Homo sapiens: one gene and its partners. The protein of the gene in region 4 interacts with the protein of the main gene of each other region in a biochemical or structural test. Each region holds a gene or a part of one and is shown on either strand. Other genes may lie near its edges.

Region 1 (6,967 bases), on a different chromosome or scaffold from region 4:
GGACTCAGGCTCACAGCTTCCTGAACCAGGCAGGCGAGGCTGCCTGGGGACTTCCTCCTCTTCCCAGCCCTCTGAGCTGGAAGCGTCAGCTCATGGGATGAATGGCGCCCCGGCATGGATGAAAGCCACTTGCCCCAGCTCCCTCCAGGAGTGTGCATGGCAGAGCTGGGGCTGCCACGTGAACCCAGGCCTCAGGACCCTGGCACAGCCCCTGCACCCACACTTGCCATTTCTCCGCACCCCTCCCTGGACTCCGCCAGGTTAGGGTCTCCCAGGCCCTGGCACCCAGTTCAGGCCTGGAGACACCTCCTCTCCTTCCTGCAGGGTGACTCCGACAGCCCTTGCCTGCCAGGATGGAGCCTGGACTCTGGAGGGCATCGTGTCCTGGAGCAGCACCAGCACCTCCTGTTGTCACCAGGCGTGGATGCCCGCATCATGAAATTCATGCCTGGGAAGGCGTGGAGGCCGAGACCACCCCCCCTACCCCGCATCTGTGTAAAACACAAATAAAGCCATTGAGAGCAACTGCATACACCTTTACCTCTGTGTCCTCACCAAGGCAGGTGGGCTGAGCATGATGTGGCTGAGGTGGGGGGACAGATGCTGTCACGGGGACAACCTCTGTAGAGGTAAGATCAGGAGGGCTTGCGAATCACCCAGCCCTACTCCCTTCTTCATACAGATGGGGAAACCAAGGCCCATGTTCATATGCAGAACGGTCAGGGCTGGGAGCAGCACCAGGGGTTCCAAGCACCCTGAAGCTTCCATCTGGGCTGCGGGCTGCTGGGTGGGGGAGCCACGAAGGGGGACACACTTGCCCAGGGCAAGGGTCTTCTCCAAGCCCCTCCCTCCCAACTCAGATGCCAGGTCCAGGTATAATTCCATGTGCACTTCGGGAGTTCCGCAGGCTGGGATGAGATTCTTTTAAGCAGAGCTCTGGATGCAGCCCCCAGCGGTGCCCTCGGCTCACAGGAACCCGTCCCCTTGTGCAGCTGTTCCTGCCCCAATCTGCCCTCACTCCAGATGCCAGCTGTGGGCATGGGCAGGTGCTCACTGTGGCAGCTCCCTAGGGTTGCAGGGGCCATGCCCAGGCTGTGCTTTCTGGGCCCCAGACCCTGCAGCTCTGAAACTGCCCCCTTTCTTGGGCCCAGGCTCTGCCCTGGCTCCCAGGGCCTTGTGGCCAGCTGCAGGCCTCACCCCGCCTCCAGGAGACACCCAGCCTCGGCGTTCCTTGGTTTTCTTCTAGAGAGACCCACTCCTCCTCTGCCCTCCCGGGAGATGCCACGCATGGCCCTTGCCCCCGGGTGCCTTCCCCAGAACCGTCACCCACCCCGGGCTGCTCTCATCTGCCACCCTCAGGCAGCTGCTCTTCCTTTTAAAAACTTTATTTAAATGGAGACTCTTAGTCAAATGATTGGAAAACCAATAACGAAAAATAGTTCTTCAGGTTCTTCTCCTGGTAAGGCGGAGGACACACCAAACTGCACTGGCCCTGTCAGGGGACACGGCACCCTCGTGGGACCAGGCTCAGCCCTCGGGGTGGCACGAGGTCCTGCAGGCTGCAGGACCCTCACACTCCAGCCCCGTCTGGTGACCCAACCCGGGCCCGTGGTGCATGCTGGGGAAGGCCACTGGCCGGCCCCTGGGCTTCGGCTCCTGAGGAGGCATGGCCCCACACCCTGCCCGGCCATAAATATATACAGATTCCTGGGCATCCAGGGCACCAGGACCGACGCAGAGCTGGGGTCCTGTCCCTAAGCCTGTGGCACAGCGACTCTTGACATGGGAGCCAGGGAGCTGGGACCGCCGCACCCCTCCCCTGCCTCCCTCCTGGGGTCACCACCCTCAGGCGGCTGCCAGCTGGCCTAGGACGCGGCGGAACTGCTGGGTGCTGTGGCCCAGCTCCTTGACCCTCTCCACCATGTCCTGGGCCGCGGAAGGCGATGGGTACTGCAAGGCAGCGGCCTTGGTGGTGGCCACGATGCCGCGCAGGAGGTCGCACAGCAGGTTGCTGTAGTGGGTCACCTGGCTGCGCACGTCAGCAGCCTTGGCCTGCCGTGACAGTGTGTCCCCGATGAACACCAGCTTGTGGGCGCTGAGGATGACGAACTTGCTGTGCGCCACAAAGATCTTGGGCGGCTGGTTGGTGGCCACGGCGGTAAAGAAGGCGTCCACGGCGTTGGTCAGTGTGGTCAGGTTGGCCTCACACTGCTCCAGGTAGAAGAGCAGCAGCTGCCGGTCCGAGGGCCCCAGGCCGCCTGTTCGCCCCGGGGCCAGGGGTTGGGCTGGCGTCCAGTTGGCCAGGTCGTGGTCTATGGGCCGTGACACCTCCTGTTCCAGTCGTTCAAACTGCTTCAGCTGGGGCAGGAGGGAAGCAGGAGCAGGGTTAGGCTCTCGGGTGAGTTGGAACTACAGGCCGAGACCTGGGCACCCTGGGCTGGGCTTCTCTAAAAGGGCCGCTACTCAGAGTGCATGGGACTGCAGGGAAACGGGCAGTCTCCTCTCCCGGGGACGGGACCAGGAACCATGGCAAGCCTTCTGGAGGTTGTTCAGTTACCCTTCCACCAGTCTCAAAAGGTCAGACTCCGTGCCCTGAACATTTTTGAAATGACAAGATGGACAACAGAAAAGTGGCTGCCTGGGGTCGGGGGGTCACCGTCCTGGCTTGGGTACTGTCCCACGTGACTTGAGACGTGGCACTGGGGAAAATGGCTGAAGGGCACTGGGGACCCCTCGACCCTATCTTTGCAACTTCCTGTGAATCTATAAATATTTCAAAATGGAAGGTTAAAAAAATTTTCCCCTTAGTTCAAAAGTAACATACACATTATAAAAAGATTCAAATATATCAAACAGAAAAAACGAAGATGTCACCTGTAATCCAATGCCCCTAAATAGAACCTCTGCTAAATCATCTTCCAGAACCACACACGAAAGTTAACATTTCCACTCCCGTGCCTAGGAGTCAGCTGAAGGGGACAATGTGTCCTCACTAGAGCCGCTCTGGCTCCGGAAGTGACCAGCCACACCCAGACTCAGGACTGGTAAGCTCTGTGCCACCCTAGGCGCAAAGATCCAAGCCACAATGAGCAAAACCAATAGGAAACCTCCCCTTCCTAACACTTAGAACCTCGCACTGTCCCCCTTAGGCAGCCACTTGGTGAAATCCTCCATCTCTCCGTTCCCTTAGCCAGTGAGATACATACTCCGCTTTTTTTCTTTGAAAAGCTCTGATGAGGCAGGGTGAGGTGGCTCATGCCTGTGATCCCAGCACTTTGGGAGGCTGAGGCAGGTGAATCACTTGAGTCTGGGAAGTCCAGGCTGCAGTGAGCCCTGACAGAGCACAGGCAACAAGCTTTGTGGGGTTTTTTTTTTTTCAATACTATTTTTATTTTTATAAAGAAGGAGTCTTGATCTGTCACCCAGGCTAATCTTTTTTTTTTTTTTTTTAAATGGAGTCTTGCTCTATCGCCCAGGCTGAAGTGAAGTGGCACGATCTCGGCTCGCTGCAACCTCTGCCTCCTGGGTTCAAGCGATTCTCCTGCTTCAGCTGGGATTACAGGCCTGCGCCACCACCCCTGGCTAATTTTTGTATTTTTGGTAAAGATGGGGTTTCACCATGTTGGCCAAGCTGGTCTCAAACTCCTGACCTCAGATGATCCTCCCGCCTCTGTCTCCCAAAGTGATGGGATTACAAGCGTGAGCCACTGCACCCAGCCCTTTTTATTCTTTGACAACTCTTCATAGTTATATAATATCCCACTGCATAAATGTCCATACTTTATTGAATCAATACTCTCCTATTAGACACTTTGTGGGTGGAGATTTCAGATTCTTCACCGATACAAAAATGGGGCAACAGATGTTCTCATCAGTAAGTCTTCATGGACTTGCATTTAACATGGACTTTATGTCCTTGGCCTTGGAATTCTACATCTTTAAAGTTCTTCACATATATTCTTGCCCTTTAATCCAGCTTCTAGCAAGTTATCTAAGTGATTCATCAGATACGTGCAAAGACTAGTATTCATCACAGCACTGTTCACAAAAGTAAAACTCTGGGAACAGCCTAAGTGTCCAACAGCAGGGGACTGGTGAAGTCAGTGCTGGAGGCACACAGAGGACGGACAAAGTACACGACCACTTCTGAAAACACGGCGATCCCAGAGTTCTCTCTCTAGACAGAGATATAGACCTATATATTGTTGATATTTCAGGAGGTTTTTTGTTTTTGAGACGGAGTTTCGCTCTTGTTGCCCAGGCTAGAGTGCAGTGGTGCGATCTCGGCTCACCGCAACCTCCGCCTCCTGGGTTCAAGCGATTCTCCTGCCTCAGCCTCCCAAGTAGCTGGGATTACAGGCATGTGCCACCATGCCCAGCTAATTGTTTTGTATTTTTAGTAGAGATGGGGTTTCTCCATGTTGGTCAGGCTGGTCTCGAACTCCCGACCTCAGGTGATCCGCCCGCCTCGGCACCCAGGAGGTTTTTAAAACAATTTTATTTTATTTTTTTTGAGACGGAATCTCACCCTGTCGCCCAGGCTGGAGTGCAGTGGCGCAATCTCGGCTCACTGCAAGCTCCGCCTCCTGGGTTCAAATGATTCTCCTGCCTCAGCTTCCCAAGTAGCTGGGACTACAGGCGTGTGCCACTATGCTGGCCAATTTTTGTATTTTTAGTAGAGATGGGGTTTTGCCATGTTGACCAGGCTGGTCTCAAACTCGTGACCTCAAGTGATCTGCCCGCCTTGGCCTCCCAATGTGCTGGGATTACAAGTGTGAGCCACTGTGCCTGGCCACAATTTGTATTAATGTATACAGACTTGGGTCTCACTACGTGGCCTGGCTGGTCTCAAACCCTTGGCCTCAAGTGATCCTCCTGCCTCAGCCTCCTAAAGTGTTAGGATTACAGGTGTGACATTTATTCTTTTCTTGGGTGTTTTCTTTAGTAGATTTAACAGGGGTGCAGGTGCAGTTTTGTTATGTGGGTACAATGTACCCATTAGGTAATTTCTCAGCCCCCACCCCCTGCCACCCTGCCACCGTTCTGAGATGTCAATGTCTAGCCTCTCCTGAGTGTCTCCATGTGCCAGGTACTTCCCAGGCATCTTCCACTTTTCAGTGATTCTCACCGAGCTCTCATGAGGCGGCTGCAGCCTCACTGCTGTGTGTCGTGGGTCTCAGGCCCCTGCCTCTGCCACCTCCTTGGTGCCCAGAAGGTAGGCGAGGGAGATTTGACGGGTGATATTTTTATGTTCACTTCGTGCTATCCTGTATTTTCACTTTTAAAATTATCTTCATAATCAGAATAAAGCTCCCTTAGTGTTTTTTTACATACCTCTTTCCTACCCTGAAGAACTGATTCAAAATATGAGGAAAATTCTATTAACATGTCTGCATATAAACACAGCAGTATATTTATAATAAGGGGCCAGATGTGGTGGCTCACACTATAATCCCAGCACTTTGGGAGGCCAAGGCAGGTGGATCGTTTGAGCCCAGGTGTTTGAGACCAGCCTGGGCAATGTGGTGAAACCTTTGTCTCTATAAAAAATATAAAAATCAGCCAGGTGTGGTGGCAGGCGCCTGTAATCCCAACTACTGGGGAGGCTGAGGCAGGAGAATCGCTTGAGCCCAGAAGGTTGAGGCTGCAGTGAGTTGAGATCGCATCACTGTACTCTAGCCTGTGTGACAGAACAAGATTCTGTGTCAAAAAAAAAAAAATACTAAGGAAGTGTGGGTACAATACAAACATTCAATAGACGCTAAGTGGTCTTTGAAAGAATCCACAAGAATGCTTAACGCCATGGCAGATGCTGGGACAGAAGAGTCGAATGCCCACAGGACACCATCCCGGCCATGCAGGGAGCAGCTTGGAGGAAGGAGCAGGGCAGAGCCAGCCCCGTGCTGAGCCTATGGCAGCTGTGAGGGGTCTATTTTCTGCTCTCACCCCACTCTCTAATTCCCTAAATGTCTCCAACAATTACTCTTGAAAACTTTAAAATAAACCAAGTGAAAAGATGAAGATGGTCAGGAGGCAGGGGGGTGGCAGGCCGGGCCCAGCTCTGAGCACTGTCAGACAACATGAGAAGCTGGGGACCCGGGGTCGGCCCTGCAGGGCAAGAGCTGGGGGCTCAGGGGGTCAGCGGGCAAAGCTGGGCCTTGCTCTGCTCCGGGGCCTCACCTGCTGCAACTCCAGCTGGCTCTTGCCCTGCCGCGTGATGCTGCCCTTTTCCAGCAGCTCCTTCTGGGTCTTCTCAAACTCCTCCTTCCCCTGGAGGGCAGAGACAGGGGCTGCGCTGAGGCCAGTTTTCTGAGCCAGAAGCACAGGCCAGCCCTGTGGCGGGCGCAGTGAGCTGAGTGGCCACCAGGTGGTGCTGCGTGTGCGCGCACACACACGCACACGTGGACGCACACACACACTAGCACACGTGGACACACACACACACACAAGCACACGTGAACACACACACAGACTGGCACGTGCAGGGGCAGGCAGACAGACACACACACACACACACACACACACACACACACACACTCCCCCAGGCTGGCATATGTGGGACACAGCCCCCCCAGGCTGGCACATGCGGGGACACACAGAGAAGGTGGCTTCCTAGGAAGCAACCCTGGCAGCCCCTTTCACCGCCTGCCAGCTCAGGAAGAGACTGGGCAGAGGGTGGGGTACCCGCAGAAAGTCCGCAAGCTCCACCCTGCCTTCCCAGGCTCCAACACCAGGAATCACACCCAATCCCTCCCCCTTGGCCTAAAGGCCTGGCCACCTGGTCCCTGCCCCTGGATGCCTCTCTGGCCCAGCTCAGCCTGGAATGTTCCTTACCAGGACTCCCACCCGGCTAGCACCCAGGCCTCTGCTCCAGGGGCCAGCCTGGGAGGAGCAGTCCCAGCCACCTCCCACCACCTCCTGCTGCTCCCCCACGCTCAGAGCATCCTTGTGTGTGTGCACATTTCTG
Region 2 (6,881 bases), on a different chromosome or scaffold from region 4:
GAGTGGAAGTGTGGTCCACCCACAGAGCCACCAGAGCGCCTCCAGGGAAACACAGCCCTGTTGTTAAGCTCCGAAAAATGCTGGAGTTGGTAAGGATGGTGGAGGGGTCCTCCAGTAATTTTCCCTTAGGTGGAAACAGCCAATCACCTACTGGCAATAAATCCCTACATCCCAGCACCTACATCCTTCCCAGTCAGCATCCTTCGTGAGAACCACTAAAATCCTCCCACTGCACACTTGCAGACAAGTGGGGAGCCTGGGATGGCCCCATTGCGCTCATGCTCAGCTCCCCTCCCACCCTCCCTGATGGGGGACTCTGGTTAAAGTGCCTCTGGATGCCGATGGAGTGGTGCTGTCTCATTACTGTCTACCCAGCAAGCTGTCATCTGCACCCAGTGAGAGGAAGCACAGCAGCCACTCTCTTCTCTACCTTCAGCCCTTCACATCTTTCCTAGCATTTCCTGGCAAAACCATCCCAGATACTTTTCGCCTTTTAAAATTTTCCAACAGTTTTCTATTTTTTCTTTTTTTAACTTTTTTAAATTTATTTTTTCTTAATAATCAAACATGGAGTTTTCTTAAAACCAAAGTATTAGCAAGAGGTGTGATGTTAGAAGTCACCACCATGAGCGCTGGTGAAGCTTCTGGAAGGTGTGAGACTCAAGCGCACCGCCCTGTTCTGGCCCTCAGCCTCCTCCCCAGCAAGGAGACCCCGTTCTCCCATCTACGAACATTCTTTTCAGTCTTCTCCAGACCATCCAGCTACACTATAGGATCCTAACTGACACCATCCAGGTCTCTCTGGGGGCAGACGAAGGGTAACAAGGTCTCTTAAAATGTGGCGTCCCAAAGAGAAGCCCTCCCCATCTGCAGGCAAGCACAGGACACTGTGGCAGCTGAACCCAGGGCGGCCACACTTCACACCCAGGAGGCACCACTTACTGGTGATGTGACCTCAGGCAAGCAATCCACCTCTTCCTTGCCTCTGTAGAATGGGAGCAGTGATGGCCCCCACTGCACCCCGATGGCCCCCACTACACCCCCAATGGCCACTACTGCACCCTGGCCATGGGCACCTAAGTTGCTTCCTCAGCAGGGCCAGGGCTATGGGATGCCTGCTCCTCTGCCAGCCTCCTGCCTCTCCTGCCTATCCACCTCTTCCTCTCTCTCTGCGTGTGCTGGTGCTAGGTTCCCTGGGAGTCAGTCCTCAGCTCTCTCCTCTACACACTACCCCCGCAGGGACCCCCACTGTCGCCACAACCCAAGCATTCTCAGGTGGAATATCCACCCCGAACCTCTCGCCTCTGATGCAGACTGAAGGCCCGTGCCAAGTGCCCCAGACTGAATCCATTAGGTGGTGCACAGGGTGCAGGTTACACACTGAGTCTGCAGTCAGATGAGCTCTCCTGCACTTTTGTGAATGTGTCTGGGCCTCAGTTTCCTCATCTGCAAAATGGGGAGATGGGGAGGAAGCTCAGTCATAATGGTCCTGAAGCAAGGAGGCCCCCTATGCCTCCCAGCATGTGGAACAAGCTAAGTGCAGGCCCGGTAGGACCCAGGGCTGTCCCAGGACTGTCCCCGTGACCACTGTCCAGCTGGCTCCGTGGTCAGGGCATACTGTAAGTCATTGACAGCAGAGAGAAGCAACTGTTCACAGAAAGGAGAGCGCTCCGGGGACAAGGGCTGCCAGGGCGCTTCCCAAAAGTCAGAGAGCCAGGATTCGAACCACACCAGCAGAGGGTCGGGCAGGTCCAGCACGGGCCAGGCACAGAATGGGCGCGGGGCTGCTGCTGAGACGGTGCCCTTGGAGGACACAGCCTGGGCTGTGGGAGGCGAGACCACCAAAGGTCTTCCCAGTCGGGTCGAGTGGCCTGGATGAGGCAGGCGGTCAAGGATGTCTGTGGATGGTGGGACGGGGAATAGCAAGCCCGAAAACCAACTGGGAAGATCCCGGACCCGGGAGAGCAGGAGAGTAGCCACGGCCCAGTCCCGACACCAGGCGCGCAGATCACGAAGAGGTGGGCGTCCGCAGGCCTCGGCGACCGGCTGCGGGTCCCCGGGGCGCAAGGATGCGGGTCCCACGCGGACGGGCCCGTCTATTCAGCCGCAAGGGAAAGCCTCCCTCTCAGGAATGCGCACTCGGGTCCGAAATGTAAACTTGCAACCCGACTCCTTCCATCCCCCCTCGGAAGCGACAAAGAGCCGCGGAGCAAAAACAGGCCCCCGCTCTCCCGGAAGGGTCTCCAGGCCTGGGGCCACTGGGGCGCTCGGCCGCTCGCCTTCTCTCCAAGGTCCCACACGGTCCCCAGCGAGACCGCCGAGGGGCAAGGGGCGCTGGCCACCCAGGTCGCGCCCCCTCCTCCCCGCCGGGAAAGGGCGGAATTATCCGCTGGGACCGCGCCGACCTGAGCCCGCCCACCCAGAGCCCGGACGCGGGACGCAAGTTCATCCAAGAAGCAGAAGCCGCCGCGAGACAGTGACCCCTGGGCTTCCCTGACGGGCCCAGCCGCGCAGATAGCAGCGGCCGGGGCCGGGGAGTTGGGGGTAGCCCGGGGGGCTCCACGGCAGAGGTCCAGAGGAGCGGGCGTCGGAGGGGACACCCTAGGGAGGGACGCGCCCGCCCCCATTCCCACCCCACCCCCTCGTGTTCCCGACCCGCATCCCCGGGGCTGGAGCTGACGCCGCCGGGGGCGCGGGGCGGCCGGGGTCGCCGGGCATTGCGAGCGGGGCGGCGGCGCGGGCGCGGGCGGAAGCGCCTCTCCCCGGCCCGGCGGCCGCTCGGGGCGGCGGCAACAGGCGCCCGGCACACCCGCCCCGCCGGAGCCTGGGCTTGGGGCGAGAGGCGCGGCGGCGGCGGCGCTGCTCACCCACGCCGTACTTCTCCTCGCGCTTGGTGGGCACCCAGCGCGTCATGGCGCCGCCGGAGCCGCCGCGGGTCGGGCAGGAAACTCCGCGTCTAGGCCGCCATTTTCCATTCCTTTCGAGCCGCGACAGGATGGGGAGGAAAAAGTTTGCGGCGGAGGCGGCGTCATGTGGGACGGGGCGGGCGGAGCGTCGCGGGCCGGATGGGAAAGGCCGGGAGCGCCGGCGGGAGGCGGGACGGCCGCGGGCTCTGCGCCCGCCCTCGGCGCGGACCCTGGGCCCCGACCCCGCGGTCGCCGGGGCTCCCCTTCCTCTGTCCCAGTGCGCCCAGCCCCGCGCTCCGCACCCGGGCACCCCCGCGGGGTTCTCCTGAGTTCCTGGAGCTCCCGGGGCTGGCGCTCACGCCGTGAGAGGGGTGCGCCCTTAGGGGGGCGGGACGGACGGGGGGTTTCTACGGGAGGTAGGAAACGGGCGGCTTGCAAGGCGCGGGCTTAGGCCGGAGCCTGGTGGTGCGAGGTCCCCAGCTCGGATTTCTCCCTGGTGGAGAGTCCCGGAGCAGAACAAACCAGCAGAGGCTCTGGAAAGGGTCCTCCTGAGCACGTGGCTCATTCATTCATTCGACAAACGTTACCTGAGCGCCTGCCCACTCATTGCCCGAGTGTGCTGGGAGCGCCGCACCAACTGCCTGGTAGGTGGGAGAAGGGACACGTCAGGTAACAAACAGCACAGGTAAGTGCCGGCCACTCAAATGGGGTGGAAAGAGGTGGCACAGCGCTGCCGAGGGAGTGCGTTCCAGACAGGTGACCTCTTGCTTGGGTGCTGAATGAGTGGAGTTTTCCAGAGAGACCAAGAGGAAGCAGCCGCAGAAACCTCAGCCCAGCTGGGCTTGCAGAAGCTAATGCTAGAATAGTTGTGGGACTCAGGATCTGCTGAAGTCGGGGGAAGAGAGAAGTAGGGAAAGGAAAGCCCAGGCCACGCGTGGGGCTCAGGAACGGCATCCTCGCCCGAGGTGGGAGTTCTTCTCAGGCCCTGGTGTTTCCCATGACAGTAAAAGGTGGGGGCTTCAGATTTCTCCAAGGGAAAAGTTAAAGCAACACACACCTATTTATTTTTACTGTAATTTCAGAAAAGAGAGGTTAAAACCAAGACATGGACAAAGCCTCCGAATGAAGGCAGCCCTTTAAATGGAATAAATTTGGTTTCATGGCACATTAATGGGGTGTCTTCTCTCCGAAGACACAGAGACAACTACAGTAGGTCTGGGGGCCGTCAGGGATTGGAGGAACGAAGGTAAGAAAAGGAAGAAGGTAAGAAAAAGAGGTCCCTACCTCTGTGAGGTAGGGACAGTGCTGAACAGCAGGGCTGGGAGAGCCCACAGGGAGGTGGCCAGGATGGCCACAGGGCCTGGGGAGGACCAGGTGGGGCACCATCCTGCGGTAGAGAATGCCCGTCACCTGCCCTAGGGGCCACCCAGAATGCAGATTAAATAAGTATTTGGGAATGGCACAGGAGCTTTTCCATTTTCGTGGGTTAGAGGAAAGCTGCTGCGTTCAAGAGGATAACGTGGGACCTGAGCATTCTGGTAAGTCAACCCCACATTCATGGAAAGCCACGGGCTCTGTTTTACTGATAAGGAACTGAAGTCCCACAGAGGAAGTGGCCAGGCTCACTCACACACAGCATGCACTTGAAGCTTTCTGTGGAAATCAGAAACCTCCGGGGCTCAGGCGCTGTAGTGGTGGCCTGGTGACTCTGACCCCTTGAAGGAGAAGCATCTGTGAAGGTGCTGTCCAGGACAAGTAGGGTGCTCTACGGTAAAGGACATGGTGGCCTGACCTGCTCCAGAGCAGGGAGGCCTCCCTTGAGGAAATAAGATAAACCCAGACTTTAAGGATAAGCAGAAACCAGCTAGGTGAACTGGAGTGGGAACAGCACGTGAAAAGGCCCTGGTTTAGGAAGGAGCACCACTCCTTCAGAGCACAGAAAGGCCAGGATGGCCGAAGCATAGGGAACAACAGGAAAGTGACATAAATTGAGGCTGCAGAGGTAGAAGAAGGGCCTTATTGGTCGTGCTAGGAATTTGGAATTCTGCAAAGAAGCCTGGGAAACAGATTTTGGTGACACTCGCCTTCTCTTTAATGTGCAGTTTCAGTTCTGTTGGTGTGATTCTGCATTGGAGATGGCGTGCTGTAACGAATGGCCAGGAGCTTAAGAGTCATGCAGACTTGGGAGGCCTGGCCTTGCCACGCCCAGCTGCATGGCCATCCTCCTCCTGTTTCTGGCCGTTCTGTTTCTAAACCTTGGGGTTCTGATATTCCTACATGTAAACTAGGGGCTGTAATAGGAATCTCACAGGTGAGTCTTAGGATTATAAGAGGAGACATGACTGCATGTGTAAGACATCATAATGATGTGCTTCCTCATCTGACCCTACCTCCAGGTTCTTTGATAACCTCATGGTTCCCATTTTCTAGAACAGTTGCCACTTGCACTCAGATAAAGGTGACTCACTGAATGCATAAATAAGTGTAGTGCCGGATTTGCATACTTTTGGTAGACTGTCATATAATAAATTTATAAATCAGAATTTTAAAACTCCAGGTGGGGCCGGGCACAGTGGCCCATGCTTGTAATCCCAGCCAGCATTTTGGGAGGCTGAGGCAGGCAGATCACTTGAGGTCAGGAGCTCGAGGTCAGCCTGGCCAACCAGGGTTTTAGTAGAAACCCTGTCTGTACTAAAAATACAAAAATTAGCTGGGCGTGGGTGCGCATACCTGTAGTCCCAGCTACTCAGGAGGCTGAGGCAGGAGAATTGTTTGAACCCAGGAGGTGGAGATTGCAGTGAAGCAAGATCGCACCGCTGCACTCCTGCCTGGGTGACAGAGTGAGACTCCATCTCAAAAACAAACAAAACAAAACTCCAGGTGGACCACGGGCCAGGTGGTTGTAGCTTCAGTCCCTTGATTGCAACATGTGCCCAAGTTTGGCTGAGATGTACCTGTAGCCACGGTCCTTGAAGCCCTGAGAAGATTTGTCAGCATCCCCACGGTGCTCCAGCAGTGCTCTCATCTTGTGGCTCTAAATCGAGTCCATGGCCCTCTCTCACTGTCCTATGGTTGCATAAGCTCAGAACTGGCTTCGTCTCCAATTCCAGGAGCCCTGGAGGTTGTGGCCTGTTGACATTTTTACCTCCTGAGTCAATGTGGCTGGGCCACAGGTCTCAGTTGCCCTCCCAGGCATCTTGCAGGACTTGGATCTGTGCCAAGCTTGTGGGTGTGAACAAGCCCAAGAATGCTGAGGCTCTCAGTTGCTCAGTGCTGCCCATCACTGGGATTTCAGAGTAGTGACCCCCCTCCTCCAAGATACAACAGAATCTTGCTTTGGGGCCATGAAGAACACAATCAATATTACAGTTTTAAATCTTGAAAAGTACAGTTTTAATTTTTTTAATTCCAAAAAATTTCACACATGTGCACTGCAAATTCAGGAGGTAAATTCAGCAAAATCTTGCCTGGTGGAGGTACCAGAAGGCACAGTGAGTCAATGGGGCATGTTTCTCAGTCGGTGGGGAGAGATGAGAATGGAACAGGGATGTGGAGATTTTATGCAGGAAAAGGGGCCTGACCACAGATTTTTTGCCCTTTGAAAGGAGAGGAACAAGGCCTATGCCCACTGCCTCTTGGATTCAGTGGGAGATCTGGGCATCATACTGGATGACCAGGCATGTAGTCACAATGCACAATGCCACCCAGCCCAAAAGTGTATATTCAAGACTTTAGACCCAACTTCGTGCTTACAGGAAATAGAGGAGGTTGAGGAACAAGTGACACCATAAGAAATACAGTGAAACAGGCCAGGCACCGTGGCTCATGCCTGTAACTCTGAGCACTTTGGGAGGCCGAGATGGGCAGATCACCTGAGGTCAGGAGTTCAAGACTAGTCTGGCCAACGTGGTGAAACCCCATCTCTACTAAAAAAAAATATCTGGGCATGGTGGCAGGCACCTGTAATCCCAGCTA
Region 3 (7,023 bases), on a different chromosome or scaffold from region 4:
CCGGCTAATTTTTGTATTTTTAGTAGAGACAGGGTTTCACCATGTAGGCCAGGCTGGTCTCGAACTCCTGACCTCAAGTGATCCACCCGCCCCAGCTTCCCAAAGTGTTGGGATTACAAGTGTGAGCCACCGCGTCTGGCCCCCCATACACTCTTTTACCCAGATCCTCCAAATGTTAACATACCACATATGGCCGGGCACAGTGGCTCATGCCTATAATCCCAGCACTTTGGGAGGCTGAGGCAGGTGGATCACTAGGTGTGGATCACGAGGTCAAGAGATTGAGACCATCCTGGCCAACATGGTGAAACCTCATCTCTACTAAAAATACAAAAATTAGCTGGGCGTGGTGGTGTGCGCCTGTAGTCCCAGTTACTCAGGAGGCTGAGGCAGGAGAATAGCTTGAACCTGGCAGGCAGAGGTTGCAGTGAGCCGAGATCGCGGCACTGCACTCCAGCCTGGTGAAAGAGCGAGACTCTGTCCCCCGCCAAAAAAAATACCACATACGCTTTATCACTTCTCTCTCTCTCTGTCTCTCTCTACACACACACACACACACACAAAACACATGCTATTGTTTTTCTGGACCACGTGAGGGTAAATTTTCACACATGGTTCTTTCTTACCCCTGTTATATTTCAGCGTATATTCCTTAAAAATAATATTTTCTTACATAACCACAGCATAGTTGTTTGAATCGGAAAATTAACATTAACACAAAATATTATCTAAGCTACAGACCTTATTCAGATTTCACTAATTGTCCTCCTAAGGTTTGGGATCATACATTACATTCAGTTATCGTGGCACTTCAATCTCCTTTATAACAGCTCCTCAGGTTTTGTTTATCTTTCATGATATTCTTGATGAGTATAGATTAGGTAATGGGCAGCATGTTCTTCAGTTTGGATTAGTTTGATGTGTCCTCATGATTAGATTCAAGTTTTTGTAGTTTTTTTTTGAGACAAGGTCTGGCTCTATTGCCCAGGCTGGAATACAGTGGCATGATCTCAGCTCACTGCAACCTCTGCCTCCCGTGCTCAAGCGAGCACCTCAGCCCCCTGAGTAGCTGGGATTACAGGTGCATGCCACCATGCTTGGCTAATTTTATATATATATATATATATATATATATATAAATAATATATATAAATATAAATATATATATATAAATAATATATATAAATATATATAAACATAAATATTATATACTATTTATATATTTATATATGTGTGTGTATATATATATATATTTTTTTTTTTTTTTGAGACGGAGTCTCGCTCTTGTTGCCCAGGCTGGAGTGCAGTGGCGTGATCTCAGCTCACGCAACCTCCACCTCTCAGGTTCAAGCCATTCTCTATAGAGACAGGGTTGCACCATGTTGTCCAGGATGGTCTCGAACTCATGAGCTCAAGTGATCCTCCTGTCTCAGCCTCCCAAAGTGCTGGGATTATAGGCATGCGCCGCTGCCAGGCTGGAGTTTGATAAGAACACCACAGAGGCTGTGAGCTCAGGGCATCCTATTGAGGATGTACGTGATGTTGATTTGTCCCAGCACTCACAATGATGTCTCTGGTCACTTAGTTAAGGTGATATCTGTCAGGTTTTTCTACTGTAAAGTTACTATTTTTCCATTCACAATTAATGAATGTCTTGGGATAATTGCCTGAATCAATTATTGTTATGATAGTTGCCAAATGATAATTTTCTAATTCCATTATTCCTTCTGCATTTGTTTGTTGGCATTCTACTGTTAGGAAGAGTCTTTCCAGCTGAGCACAGTGGCTTATGCCTGTAATCTCAGCCCTTTGGGAGCCAGTGGGAAAATTGCTTGGGCCCAGGAGTTCAAGGTTACAGTGAGCTATGATGGCACTACTGCTCTCCAGCCAGTGCACTCACTCTGCACAACAGAGTGAGACCCTGTCTCTTAAAAAAAAAAAAAAAAAAAGGCCAGGTGCAGTGGCTCATGCCTGTAATTCCAGCACTTTGGGAGGCCGAGGCGGGCGGATCACAAGGTCAGGAGTTCAAGACCAGCCTGGCCAGCATGGTGAAACCCTGTCTCTACTAAAAATACAAAAAATTAGCCAGGCATGGTGGTGTGCTCCTGTATTCCCAGCTACTTAGGAAGCTGAGGCAGGAGAATCACTTGAACCCAGGAGGTGGAGGTTGCAGTGAGCTGAGATTGCTGCCACTGTACTCCAGCCTGGGCGATAGAGCAAGACTCTGTCTCAAAAAAAAAAAAAAAAAAAAAAAAAAAAAAAGGTCTTCCTTTCCTATTTACTCTTATGGATACTTATTTTATTCTAGTCAATGGTTATAATCCTTTACAATCATTATTTATTTTAGCCAGCCCCTCCAAGTTGGCTCCTGTGTTCTTTGGGCTGTACCCTTAATTCTTTGAGTCTTGTCTTGTTTGCACAAGATGCTCTGGGCTTATATTATATTTCCCCCATCCCAGCCATTTCTCCAAGGAATGTTTCCTTTTAGTGGAGAATGATATTTAGAAACCAAATGCTGAGGCTGGGTGTGCTCATTGCCATTGAGTTATACCTTTACCTTATTGACTGGTTTCTACTGTTCTATTCAGAGACCCCTGGCACAAGATCCCTGCCCTGGACCCAGAGAAGCTCAATGTCTTCCGGACAGTACGGGAGATCACAGGTGAGTGGCAGAGAGTTTGCCCTTTCTAGAAGAATAGGTGAACCACTGGCATAAATTGCGGTATAACTACTTGAGAAAATCACGTCCCAAGTTATAGGGGAGGAGCCAGGAGAACCCAAGAAAGAAGAAGGCTCCCTGCCCATATGCCTCTCTCCAACCCCTCAGGTTACCTGAACATCCAGTCCTGGCCGCCCCACATGCACAACTTCAGTGTTTTTTCCAATTTGACAACCATTGGAGGCAGAAGCCTCTACAAGTGAGTAAAGGGTATGGAGGAAATGGCATCTTCAGGCAATGAAGCCTGTGTCATAGGCATTCTTTAGTAAAATACAAGGCACTGTCTCATACAGCAGTGCCTCAAAACCAAAGGGTTTCAGAGTTTCACGAGGAAAAGGCAAAAGGAGGGGGATTCCCTCTCAGTGGATCTGACTAGCACTGAGCAAATTTCTTGACTAACATGAATCCTTTGAATAGTTAATGTTCCCTTAGTAGTCTCTCCTCTCATCCTGTCTCCTTATTCTCAGCCGGGGCTTCTCATTGTTGATCATGAAGAACTTGAATGTCACATCTCTGGGCTTCCGATCCCTGAAGGAAATTAGTGCTGGGCGTATCTATATAAGTGCCAATAGGCAGCTCTGCTACCACCACTCTTTGAACTGGACCAAGGTGCTTCGGGGGCCTACGGAAGAGCGACTAGACATCAAGCATAATCGGCCGCGCAGAGACTGCGGTGAGGGAAAGGGTCTGCTAGGTGGTGAGAATAGGGAGTCAGGGAGGAGAGGGCTGAAAGGACTATTCTGCCCTAGACGTGGGAGTAGGGTTGAGGGATGGAACCAAGGAGAAGGGGGCTGTTAGGCTGGAAGCAGTAACGAGGAAGAATAATGAAGAGAGGGCTTGCTGGGAGTCCTCAGACTCCTCTCCTAACCCACCCCTTCCTTTCCAGTGGCAGAGGGCAAAGTGTGTGACCCACTGTGCTCCTCTGGGGGATGCTGGGGCCCAGGCCCTGGTCAGTGCTTGTCCTGTCGAAATTATAGCCGAGGAGGTGTCTGTGTGACCCACTGCAACTTTCTGAATGGGTACAGTAAGGGGAGCCAGTCAAGGATGGGTGGGGGTGGGGCCCTGCAATGGAACTGTTCAGGTGGCATACAATAAAAGTCTTTAGACAGCTTTCTGCATGTGCCTTGGTGGGATTGAGGTAGGAGACCTGTGGTTGTGAGATCGGAGCATGAAGGTCAGGACTTGGAAGTGACCCCCCCCTCCCTTTATTCCCCACTACAGGGAGCCTCGAGAATTTGCCCATGAGGCCGAATGCTTCTCCTGCCACCCGGAATGCCAACCCATGGAGGGCACTGCCACATGCAATGGCTCGGTATACTAGTAGCACCAGGATCTCCAAGGGAGACAGAGAAGGGGCAATACTTGGAGCATCTGGGGAATGATATGGCTAAGGATAGCACAGAGAGGCCAGATAATGCTAGGGCCTGCAGATAGAAGATCCTGAATGTCTGGGTTGGTCTTTGCTGGGAGGTATGGAATTGACCTTGGGATCTGATTCTTCCTGACCTTCTCTCTTCCACTCAGGGCTCTGATACTTGTGCTCAATGTGCCCATTTTCGAGATGGGCCCCACTGTGTGAGCAGCTGCCCCCATGGAGTCCTAGGTGCCAAGGGCCCAATCTACAAGTACCCAGATGTTCAGAATGAATGTCGGCCCTGCCATGAGAACTGCACCCAGGGGTCAGTGATGGGATAATAAGGAGAGGGGGTCAGGTGGAAGGGTAGGAGCACAGAACTAGAGTGAGGGAAGCAGAAAGAAGAGAGAGGCTGTGATTCAAGAATCACTCCCAGCTGGCCGGGCGCAGTGGCTCACACCTGTAATCCCAGCACTGTGGGAGGCCGAGGTGGGTGGATCACCTGAGGTCGGGAGTTCGAGACCAGCCTGACCAATATGGAGAAACCCTGTCTCTACCAAAAATTTAAAATTAGCCCGGCGTGGTGGCGCATGCCTGTAATCCCAGCTACGCGGGAGGCTGAGGCAGGAGAATTTCTTGAACCCAGGAGGCAGAGGTTGCGGTGAGCTGAGATTGCATCATTGTACTCCAGCCTGGGCAACAAGAGTGAAACTCTGTCTCAAAAAAAAAAAAAGAATCACTCCCAGCTGTGTAGCGAAGGATTGGAGAAAGGGAAAATCAGTAACAGCACAAAATTACACCACAGTTTTGGGAACCTGGAATAACCTCAGTTCAAGGGAGTTTCACAGAAGAGGGGCTTGGGGAGAGCTAGTGAGCTGGAGGTGGAGGCCATGTCTTGGGATCAGCTCTGGGCTCCAGGATGGGATGCCACGGTAAGTTCTGAAACAAGCTTTTATATGTTAGGCTGTTGAAATTGAGCCTCTGCTGTCCAAGCTCTCATTTAAGGTGGTGACTTTCTTCCCTAGGTGTAAAGGACCAGAGCTTCAAGACTGTTTAGGACAAACACTGGTGCTGATCGGGTATGATGGGGTTGGAGATTCTGGAAACTGGGGATATTTGGGAGTTGGGAGAGAGGTGGTTACCTGGAGAGAAGAGGGAGGCTGTCTTCATTCTGGCCTTTTATGTATGCAGTCCACTATCACTGGACACTTGGGACTCAAGAATGCAGGCTTCTGGACTTCCCTTCCTAAAATTAACTTTCAGTAGTCTAAGACTGGTCCAGATTTAGGTTGGTCCCTTCAGTGCTTAAGGATATATATGTGAATGTTAATTTCTTGCCCCAGGTCAGCATCATACCTTCAACACAAGTATAGTTGACATTTGTAAGGAAGATGCAAACCCAGGATAATGTTGGGTTTCTATATATCCCATAGCAAAACCCATCTGACAATGGCTTTGACAGTGATAGCAGGATTGGTAGTGATTTTCATGATGCTGGGCGGCACTTTTCTCTACTGGCGTGGGCGCCGGATTCAGAATAAAAGGGCTATGAGGCGATACTTGGAACGGGGTGAGGTGAGTACTTAGCTTACTTTTGTTTTTTCTTTTCTTTTTTTGCATGTCCTGGAAGTCTCTTTATAGCTTAATTTTGAGTGGTACCCTGTGCACCCAGGGGTCAGTGATGGGATAAATGTCACTCCCCTCCTCTTTCCCCAGAGATTTGATCCCTTTCTTCAAGGAAGTAGTGTGGTCCCCTAGAAGAACACTGGTCAGAGAAATGGGAGGCATGCATTCTAGTCCTGATTTTGCCATTAATTTGCCACATGACTTTGAAGAAGTTACTTATCTTCTCTGTGCCTCGGTTTATGCATCTATACAGAGGAAATAACATTTGTCCTTCCAGGATGGCTGTAAGGGTAAAGGGGGATGATGTATGTGAAAGTGCTTTGGAAAGCACAGAGCACTGTATAAAAGGTACTCAAGGTGGTAATAGTACTACCAACTCTCCCTAGCTGTCCCCTTCCCCACTTTGTGCTCCTCCATCAAAGGGAAAACCCAACCCCTTTGATTCCTGATCTCATGAGCACAAATAACTTCCTCAGTTCTCAGGGTCTGTACCTCAATATGCCTATAATCCATTCCAGGACTAACGGTGCTTCCTCTTCCTGCCCTTTCAGCTGTGCTGCTTTTGGCATTCACCTATGAGGAGCGGGTTGGAGTGGGACATGGGAATGGCCTTTCCTGAGTAACTCCTTCCCATTTGCTCCTCAGAGCATAGAGCCTCTGGACCCCAGTGAGAAGGCTAACAAAGTCTTGGCCAGAATCTTCAAAGAGACAGAGCTAAGGAAGCTTAAAGTGCTTGGCTCGGGTGTCTTTGGAACTGTGCACAAAGTGAGTGACCCATAGGAATTCTGGAGAGGTGGGGAAGGCATCTAGGGCAAAGGGGTGAAAGATTTTTGCATAGGATTGACCTAGGGAGAATGACCTTATGCCAACTCCTGCCCCAAACTTCCCAGGGAGTGTGGATCCCTGAGGGTGAATCAATCAAGATTCCAGTCTGCATTAAAGTCATTGAGGACAAGAGTGGACGGCAGAGTTTTCAAGCTGTGACAGATGTAAGTGAAGGAAATTCTGTATGCCGCTAGGAGAGAGGACAATATTAGATACAATCATGTAGAAGCAGGGTCCTGTGCTTCTCAGCAGCTACTATGTTAGCCAGAATGTTGGGGGTGGGGGGGCCTGGGCTGGCTGTGCACATGCTGAGTGTATGTGAACCTGTTGGTTTCCTAGATAATACCTTTTGTGTCTCTTAGCATATGCTGGCCATTGGCAGCCTGGACCATGCCCACATTGTAAGGCTGCTGGGACTATGCCCAGGGTCATCTCTGCAGCTTGTCACTCAATATTTGCCTCTGGGTTCTCTGCTGGATCATGTGAGACAACACCGGGG
Region 4 (7,338 bases):
CAATCTTCACCGTCTTTCCTCAGCCAAGGAACTGAGTTCTTATCTGTTTTGAAAAGGTGGTGCTCGATTATCACGGTAAGTGTTGAGACATAAAATCGTTATGCTAAGATATGAAAAAATATCAAACTAACAAACCTGCCTGCTGCCATTTTCAACTTTGGCAACCAACAAACACAAACAAAAGGCTGAAAAGTGAGTTTCAATGACAGTTTGCCATCATGTGACGACATATAATGCAAAACCCCAGATACTATGCAGGTGGCATCAAAGTAGAATATATCTGGTTCAGGGCCAACACAGGTACATCAATATTCCCATCTCATAATACTATTAAACAGGCCACAATGAGAAAGATCTAGGATAATTTGTGAGCTTATAGACCCCATACTCATTTTTAAAAAATGGTTGTGTTAGACTGGGTGTGGTGGCTCACGCCTGTAATCCCAACACTTTGGGAGTCTGAGGTGGGCAGATCACCTGAGGTCAGGAGTTCGAGACCAGCCTGGTCAACTTGGCGAAACCCCAACCCTACTAAAAATACAAAAACTAGCCAGGCGTAGTGGAGTGTGCCTGTAATCCCAGCTACTAGGGAGGCTGAGACAGGAGAATCCTTTGAACCCGGGGAGGTAGAGATTGCAGTGAGCTGAGATTGCACCATCGCACTCCAGCCTGGGCAACAAAAGCGAAACTCCGCCTCAAACAAACAAAGCTGGGTGCGGTGGCCCACGCCTGTAATCCCAGCATTTTGGGAGGCAAAGGCGAGTGGATCACCTGAGATCAGGAGTTCAAGACCAATCTGGCCAACCTGGTAAAACCCCATCTCTACTAAAAATACAAAAAATTAGCTGGGCGTGGTGGTGATGCACACCAGCAATCCCAGCTACTCAGGAGGCTGAGGCAGAATCACTTGAACCCAAAAGGCAAAGGTTGCAGTGAGCCAAGATCGCGCCACTGCACTCCAGCCTGGGCGACAGAGAGACTCCGTCTCAAAATAAATAAATAAGTAAGAAATAAATAAGAAAAATTTTAAAAAAATTAGTATGTGTTGGCCAGGCGCGGTGGCTCTTGCCTGTAATCCCAGCACTTTGGGAGGCCGAGGCTGGTGGATCACCTGAGGTCAGGAGTTCGAGACCAGCCTGGCCAACCTGGTGAAACTTCGTCTCTACGAAAAATACAACATTAGCTGGTTATGGTGGCGGGTGCCTGTAATCCCAGCTACTTGGGAGACTGAGACAGGAGAATCGCCGTGAGCCGAGATTGCGCCACTGTGCTCCAGCGTGGGTGACAGAGCAAGACTCCGTCTTAGAAAAGAGTAAAATAAAAATTGGTGTGTGTTAACAAAGAGACTGCCTATCCAATTCTCTATTTCTGGCCGGAGCGAGTAAATCTAAATTAGAACTATTCTACAAGGGCAAGTCTACAAAGGACGGCTCAAGAGCTTCCTGATTCATATGAGACTAGTCTGAACCCATTCTCAGCTGGCCAAGAAGAAACTGCTTCGACTTGGCAACAGCGTGAAGGCACGAGGACTCCTGATGCTGTTACACAGGTACACATACAATGAGAACCCCAGAATTACTTTGTACCTCACAAATCTCCAGTACTAAGGGCATCTATCTATTCCCTTAAAACAGTCCCAAATCAACTCCAACGGCATCGGTAAGACAGTCAATCTCAGGGATCCCTCCCTGGCAAGGAAAACCCAGCGCAGGTAATTTATGTTCTTGGCGTAGAGTCTGTTCCCAATATCCAGGAAGACTCAGCCCGCAGCCCCATCTTACTGAGCAAGGTGACGCCCTGAAGTACACACCGACAATGTTTAAGTCCAAGGAAAATGAAGTTCCAGTCACTTACAGGGAAGGGTCTGTTTCCATTGCCTCACTTCTGGTTTATTTTGTGGAATAAAATGTCTTTCCTCCACTAAACACTTTGAAAACCAGAACTCTCTAACGGCGGACAGTCTTCTGGACGCTTAGATCTCTTGCACATAGCCAGGCATCGCCTTAAACTGGGTTGGGCTGGTCACTGAAGGCTTTCTGCTACCACTATTTCTTCTAGCACTTAGTTCACCACCTTCGTCCTCCACGGGGGAAGAGAACGGTACAAAGATTTTGGAAAAATGCCCAAGAAAGGAAAAAATTGACCGGTTTCCTGAGGGTGTCTCCATCCCTCCCGGCCAGTATGTGGTGACTTCCTACCAAAGGCCACCAGGGGAGCACGGCCAAACCCGGCTCTCCAACACGGCAGGAAACGTTTCCAGCCTAAAAGCCACTTGTAGGATTATCGGATTCATTCTGGGCGCCGCTGCCAAGTGATGCCCCCGCAGTGCCAACATCTCCCTCAGCTCTTTGTCCCCACGTTGCCTTGCCCTGCCCTACCCTTGCGCCTGGCCCGGGAGCCAGCCCCACCCTGGGGCCGAAGCAGTTCCCCTTCCCCGCGGCTGCCCTCCCCAGGCACACCCCGGGGCCTCGGTCCGCGGCTCCTCCTCCCCCACACTCCTGCTCCCCGGGTGAGAGCGAGCCCGAGCAGCCGGCGGGCCCCTGCCACGGTCACCCAGCCCTCTGCCCACGACCCCCGAGGGTCCGCTCTCGAGGACCAGCCAGCCAGGCTGGGAGTTCCGCGGCCCTCACCCCGCCCAGGGCCCGCCGTCCCGTCAGTCCCTCACCGGGCGGAGGCTGGGCGGGCGACGGTGGCACCGGCGGGCGCGGGCCGCTGCTGTTGATGATGTAGTGGGAGACGCGCGAGTTCTCTGAGACGCTGAGCACATAGTCCCCGGGGCTGGTGCTCGAGTCCCGCACCAGGAACACCCCGTGCCGCTGGCCCTGCAGCAGCGCCACCGCCTCCTGCCGACTCAACCTCCCCCAGTACCAGCTACTCCGCTCCTCCGAGTCGAAGTTGCCCGCCATGGCTGCCTCCGCGCCTAAACGCTGGGGTGCCGCCGCCGCGCGCGCCCCTCCGGCCCCCGGCGCCCGCCGCCCAGCGGACCGGCTCCGGTTTCAGCTTCACAGCAGCGCCCGAAATGGCGGCGGCAGCCGCGGGCCTCCCCCTCCGGAAATGACGCGCTCCCTGCCCGAGGGAGGCTGCCGGGAAGGGGCCCGCGGCCCGCCATTGGGAGAAGGGCAAGGCGCCCTCGCGCGCGCACTGCGCATGCGGATTCATGGGCGGTGCCGCCCTTCCCGGGCCCGGGCTGCGGGGGATGGGAGGCGGGGTCTAGGGCCCGAGGGGCGGGGCCTCGCAGCCTCCCGCAGAGACGCGCGCCTGCGCTGCGGACAGAGCGGTGCTTCTCGTCTGGGCCCCGGTTCCTGGACGACCTGGGACTTCTAGGCAGCGACTCCCAGACAGAATTGGAGGAGAAAAGATGCGTGTGGCCCTGGGGCCTGAGTTCTCGGCCAGGCTTCCTGCGATATCAGTCTGTTTCTTTTTTCTTTTTCTTTTTGAGACGGAGTCTTGTTCTGTCGCCCACGCTGGAGTGCAATGGCGCGATCTCGGCTCACTGCTCCCGGGTTCAAGCGATTCTCCTGCGTCAGCCTCCCGAGTAGCTGAGACTACAGGCGTGAGCCACCGCGCCCGGCTGTTTTTTGTATTTTTAGTAGAGACGGGGGTTTCACCATGTCGGCCAGGATGGTCTCAATCTCCTGACCTCAGGTGATCCGCCCGCCTCGGCCTCCCAAAGTGCTGGGATTACAGGCGAGAAACATCGCGCCCGGCCACGTCGGTCCGTTTCTGCTCGTTCCTCTAGCTTCTCCACAGACCAGCTGACGTTCTCATTTTCATTGATTCACCTAGGACATTGTTGTTGACACTCCACTTGCACTGCGGGTGCAAAGGTTATCATGGCTGGGCCCTGCACTCCTCGAACTCACAGACCAGTGAGAGGAACCAGGAAACTGGATGACAAAAGGATGACAAATGCTGACAAACGCTATCATGGGAAACGGACATGAACACAGAGCAGAGCCCCCACAGCCAGTCTATGGAGTAATCCAGGAGGGCTTCCCAGAGGAGGCAGCATGTGTTGACTGCTGAATGACAAATGGGGAAGGACATTCTTTCTTTTTTTTTTTTTTTTTTTTTTGAGATGGAGTCTCGCTCTGTCGCCCAGGCTGGAGTGCCTGGGCGTGATCTCGGCTCACTGCAAGCTCCGCCTCCCGGGTTCACGCCATTCTCCTGCCTCAGCCTCCCGAGTTGCTGGGACTGCAGGCACCCGCCACCACGCCCGGCTAACTTTTTGTATTTTTAGTAGAGATGGGGTTTCACCGTGTTAGCCAGGCTGGTCTCGATCTCCTGACCTTGAGATCCGCCCACCTCGGCCTCCCAAAGTGCTGGGATTACAGGCGTGAGCCACCGCACTCGGCGGGGAAGGACATTCAAAGCAAAGGGAGCAGAGTGTACCAAGCCACGTGAAGTACAGAGTTCTCTTCTCTTTTGAGGCTTTGGGGTCACCTGCCCAGATAATTCTAAACACTAAATTGTAGCCAGGGGCATCTCCTACTCTCACTGCCCTCATGATTGCCTCTGGACTGTGTTCCTACGAGTGTCGTGCTCGCTGGTGCTCTTTCGTCTGGCTGCCCCTAATCGCACTGCAAACAACTCCCACTGAGTTTTCTAAAATACAGATCTGGCCGGGCGCCGTGGCTCATGCCTGTAATCCCAACACTTTGGGAGGCTGTGGCTGGCAGATCACCTGAGGTCAGAAGTTCGAGACCGGGCTGACCAATATGGTGAAGCCCGGTCTCTACTAAAAATACAAAAATTAGCCAGGTGTGTTAGCGGGCGCCTGTAATCCCAGCTACTCAGGAGGATGAGGCAGGAGAATCGCTTGAACCCAGGAGGCGGAGGTTGCAGTGAGCCGAAATCATGCCACTGCACTCCAGCCTGGGTGACAGAGGGAGATCCTGTCTCAAAAATATATATATATGTATACAAATCTGAATGTGTTGCTACCTTGTGTAAAACTTTTAACAGTCTTCAGGTGTTCAAACTCCCAGTTTAGCTCAGAGCATAAAATTGGGCCACAGTCTCTCTCTCTCTTTTTTTTTTTTTTAGATGGATTCCTGCTCTGTTGCCCAGGCTGGAGTGCAGTGGCGTGATCTCGGCTCACTGCAATCTCCGCCTCCCGGATTCAAGCGATTATCCCTGCCTCAGCCTCCCGAGTAGCTGGGACTACAGGCACCCGCCACCACGCCCGGCTAATGTTTGTATTTTCAGTAGAGACGGGGTTTCACCATATTGGCCAGGCTCATTTTTTTTTAATTAAAAATTTTTTCTGGCCAGGCATAGTGGCTCATGCTTGTAATCCCAGCACTTTGGGAGGCCAGGAGGTCAGGAGTTCGAGACCAGCCTGGCCAACATGGCAAAACCTCATCTCTACTGAAAATACAAAAAATTAGCCGGATGTGCTGGCAGGTGCCTGAAGTCCCAGCTACTCGGGAGGCTGAGACAGGAGAATCACTTGAACCCGGGAGGCAGAGGTTGCAGTGAGGTGAGATCGCGCCATTGCACTCCAGCCTGGGCGACAGAGCGAGACTCCATCTCAAAAAACATTGTTTTTCTTTATAGCCGAGCGTGGTGGCACATCCAGCTATAGTCCCAGCTACTCAGGAACCTGAGGCGGGTGGATCACTTGAGCCCAGGAGTTCGAGGCTGTATTGAGCTATGATCATGCCACAGCACTTCAGCCCAGGTGACAGAGTGAGACCACCTCTCTAAAATAATAATCATCATTTTTTTAAGAGATGAGGTCAGCTGGTCGCTGTGGCTCACGCCAGTAATCCCAGCATTTTGGGAGGCTGAGGCAGGTGGATCACGAGGTCAGGAGATCGACACCATCCTGGCTAACACGGTGAAACGCGGTCTCTACTAAAAATACAAAAAAAATTAGCTGGGCGTGGTGGCGGGCGCCTGTAGTCCCAGCTACTCAGGAGGCTGAGGCAGGAGAATGGGTGAACCCAGGAGGCGGAGCTTGCAGTGAGCTGAGATCGAGCCACTGCACTCCAGCCTGGGCGATAGAGTGAGACTCCGTCTCAGAAAAAAAAAAAAAGAGATGAGGTCTTCTTATGGTGCCCAGGTTGGACTCTAATTCCTGGGCTCCAGGGGTCCTCCTTCCTCAGCCTCCTCAGTAGCTGGGATTATAGAGGTACCACTGTGCTGGTCCACAGTCTCGTTTAACTGCTCCTATGTGAATGCTGGGTTTCTTTTTCCTGGAATGTTCTTCTACCCACTTTGGAGTCTCAAATTCAAATGTCTTCCCTTTCTTTTTTTCTTTTTCTTTTTTTTTTTTTTTTTTTTTTTGTTTTTGAGTCGGAGTCTCGCTCTGTCGCCCAGGCTGGAGTGCAGTGGCGCGATCCTGGCTCACTGCAAGCTCCGCCTCCCGGGTTCACGCCATTCTCCTGCCTCAGCCTCCCGAGTAGCTGGGACTACAGGCGCCCGCCACCGCGCCTGGATAATTTTTTTTTTTTTTTTTTTAGTAGAGACAGGGTTTCACCGTGTTAGCCAGGATGGTCTTGATCTCCTGACTTTGTGATCTGCCTGCCTTGGCCTCCCAAAGTGCTGGGATGACAGGCGTGAGCCACCGCACCCGGCCCAAATGTCTTCCCTTTCTTAACCATCCCATCACTCCCTCTCTTCATCAACAGCAGTATGTCCAAATTATTCCCATGACAGCTCTTACCCATTTTACTGTAATTTTTCATTTGCAGTTCTGTGTATGTCCTCAAAGGCCAAGCAGCTAGTCTATGAGGTGCTCCAGAAGCATTCAGGACCGCTAACATTGATTCAGAGATGACCATCTGCCAGGCACAGTGCTGACTGCCTTTGTATGGATCATCTCATTTAATCCTCTCAACAACCTTATTTGACAAGTATCCCCATCTTACAAAAGAGAAAACTGAAGCTCAGAGAGTTTAAGTAATGTGTCCAGAGAGACATGGTCGCAGAGTGAGGAGCTAGGGTTCAAATCCTGGAAGGAGAGACAGCTATGGTCACTCTGCTCTACCCTCAATTTTCTGAGATAGGAATTGGGAGGAAGGGTTGGCAGAAATCTACATTTTTAAAAAAGCAGTAAGCTGTGGATTATGGTCTAAGGAATAACACAGTCCTGCTGGACTCACCTTACACACCCTTGGGCCTGCTCTGGGGAAGTGGGGGGTGGGGGACTGGGAGGCACAAGGGCACCTTTCCTGCTGCAGGTGACTCATCGTGACCCTGGCTTAGTGACAGCCTGGCACCGTGAGCCAGCAGAAGCAGCCGTCCCAGTGTGAATTCTGGCTGGTCTGTGAGCTCTGGACCTTACCCAGAGACTGCCTGTTCCAAAGCAGTCCCTCTGAGATCCCTCCCTAG

Evidence for each region.
Region 1: the proteins of CRK (region 4) and BCAR1 form a complex in vitro, tested with the Homo sapiens proteins (2 studies listed by BioGRID, with this or other methods).
Region 2: the proteins of CRK (region 4) and DOCK1 form a complex in vitro, tested with the Homo sapiens proteins (3 studies listed by BioGRID and IntAct, with this or other methods).
Region 3: the proteins of CRK (region 4) and ERBB3 form a complex in vitro, tested with the Homo sapiens proteins (2 studies listed by BioGRID and IntAct, with this or other methods).

The regions. Positions count from the first base shown.
Region 1 is NC_000016.10:75,227,666-75,234,632, forward strand, and holds the end of BCAR1 (breast cancer anti-estrogen resistance protein 1), read right to left. Parts: intron 6,271-6,967; coding exon 6,181-6,270; intron 2,359-6,180; coding exon 1,846-2,358; 3' UTR 516-1,845; downstream 1-515. UniProt on the Homo sapiens protein: Docking protein which plays a central coordinating role for tyrosine kinase-based signaling related to cell adhesion. Implicated in induction of cell migration and cell branching. Involved in the BCAR3-mediated inhibition of TGFB signaling.
Region 2 is NC_000010.11:126,901,550-126,908,430, reverse strand, and holds the start of DOCK1 (dedicator of cytokinesis protein 1), read right to left. Parts: upstream 3,004-6,881; 5' UTR 2,914-3,003; coding exon 2,868-2,913; intron 2,701-2,867; exon of another isoform or gene 1-2,700. UniProt on the Homo sapiens protein: Involved in cytoskeletal rearrangements required for phagocytosis of apoptotic cells and cell motility. Along with DOCK1, mediates CRK/CRKL regulation of epithelial and endothelial cell spreading and migration on type IV collagen.
Region 3 is NC_000012.12:56,090,159-56,097,181, forward strand, and holds part of ERBB3 (receptor tyrosine-protein kinase erbB-3 isoform 1 precursor), read left to right. Parts: intron 1-2,588; coding exon 2,589-2,662; intron 2,663-2,827; coding exon 2,828-2,918; intron 2,919-3,186; coding exon 3,187-3,392; intron 3,393-3,605; coding exon 3,606-3,738; intron 3,739-3,940; coding exon 3,941-4,031; intron 4,032-4,243; coding exon 4,244-4,398; intron 4,399-5,098; coding exon 5,099-5,152; intron 5,153-5,506; coding exon 5,507-5,648; intron 5,649-6,344; coding exon 6,345-6,464; intron 6,465-6,589; coding exon 6,590-6,688; intron 6,689-6,886; coding exon 6,887-7,023. UniProt on the Homo sapiens protein: Tyrosine-protein kinase that plays an essential role as cell surface receptor for neuregulins.
Region 4 is NC_000017.11:1,453,212-1,460,549, forward strand, and holds the start of CRK (adapter molecule crk), read right to left. Parts: upstream 3,022-7,338; 5' UTR 2,907-3,021; coding exon 2,666-2,906; intron 1-2,665. UniProt on the Homo sapiens protein: Involved in cell branching and adhesion mediated by BCAR1-CRK-RAPGEF1 signaling and activation of RAP1.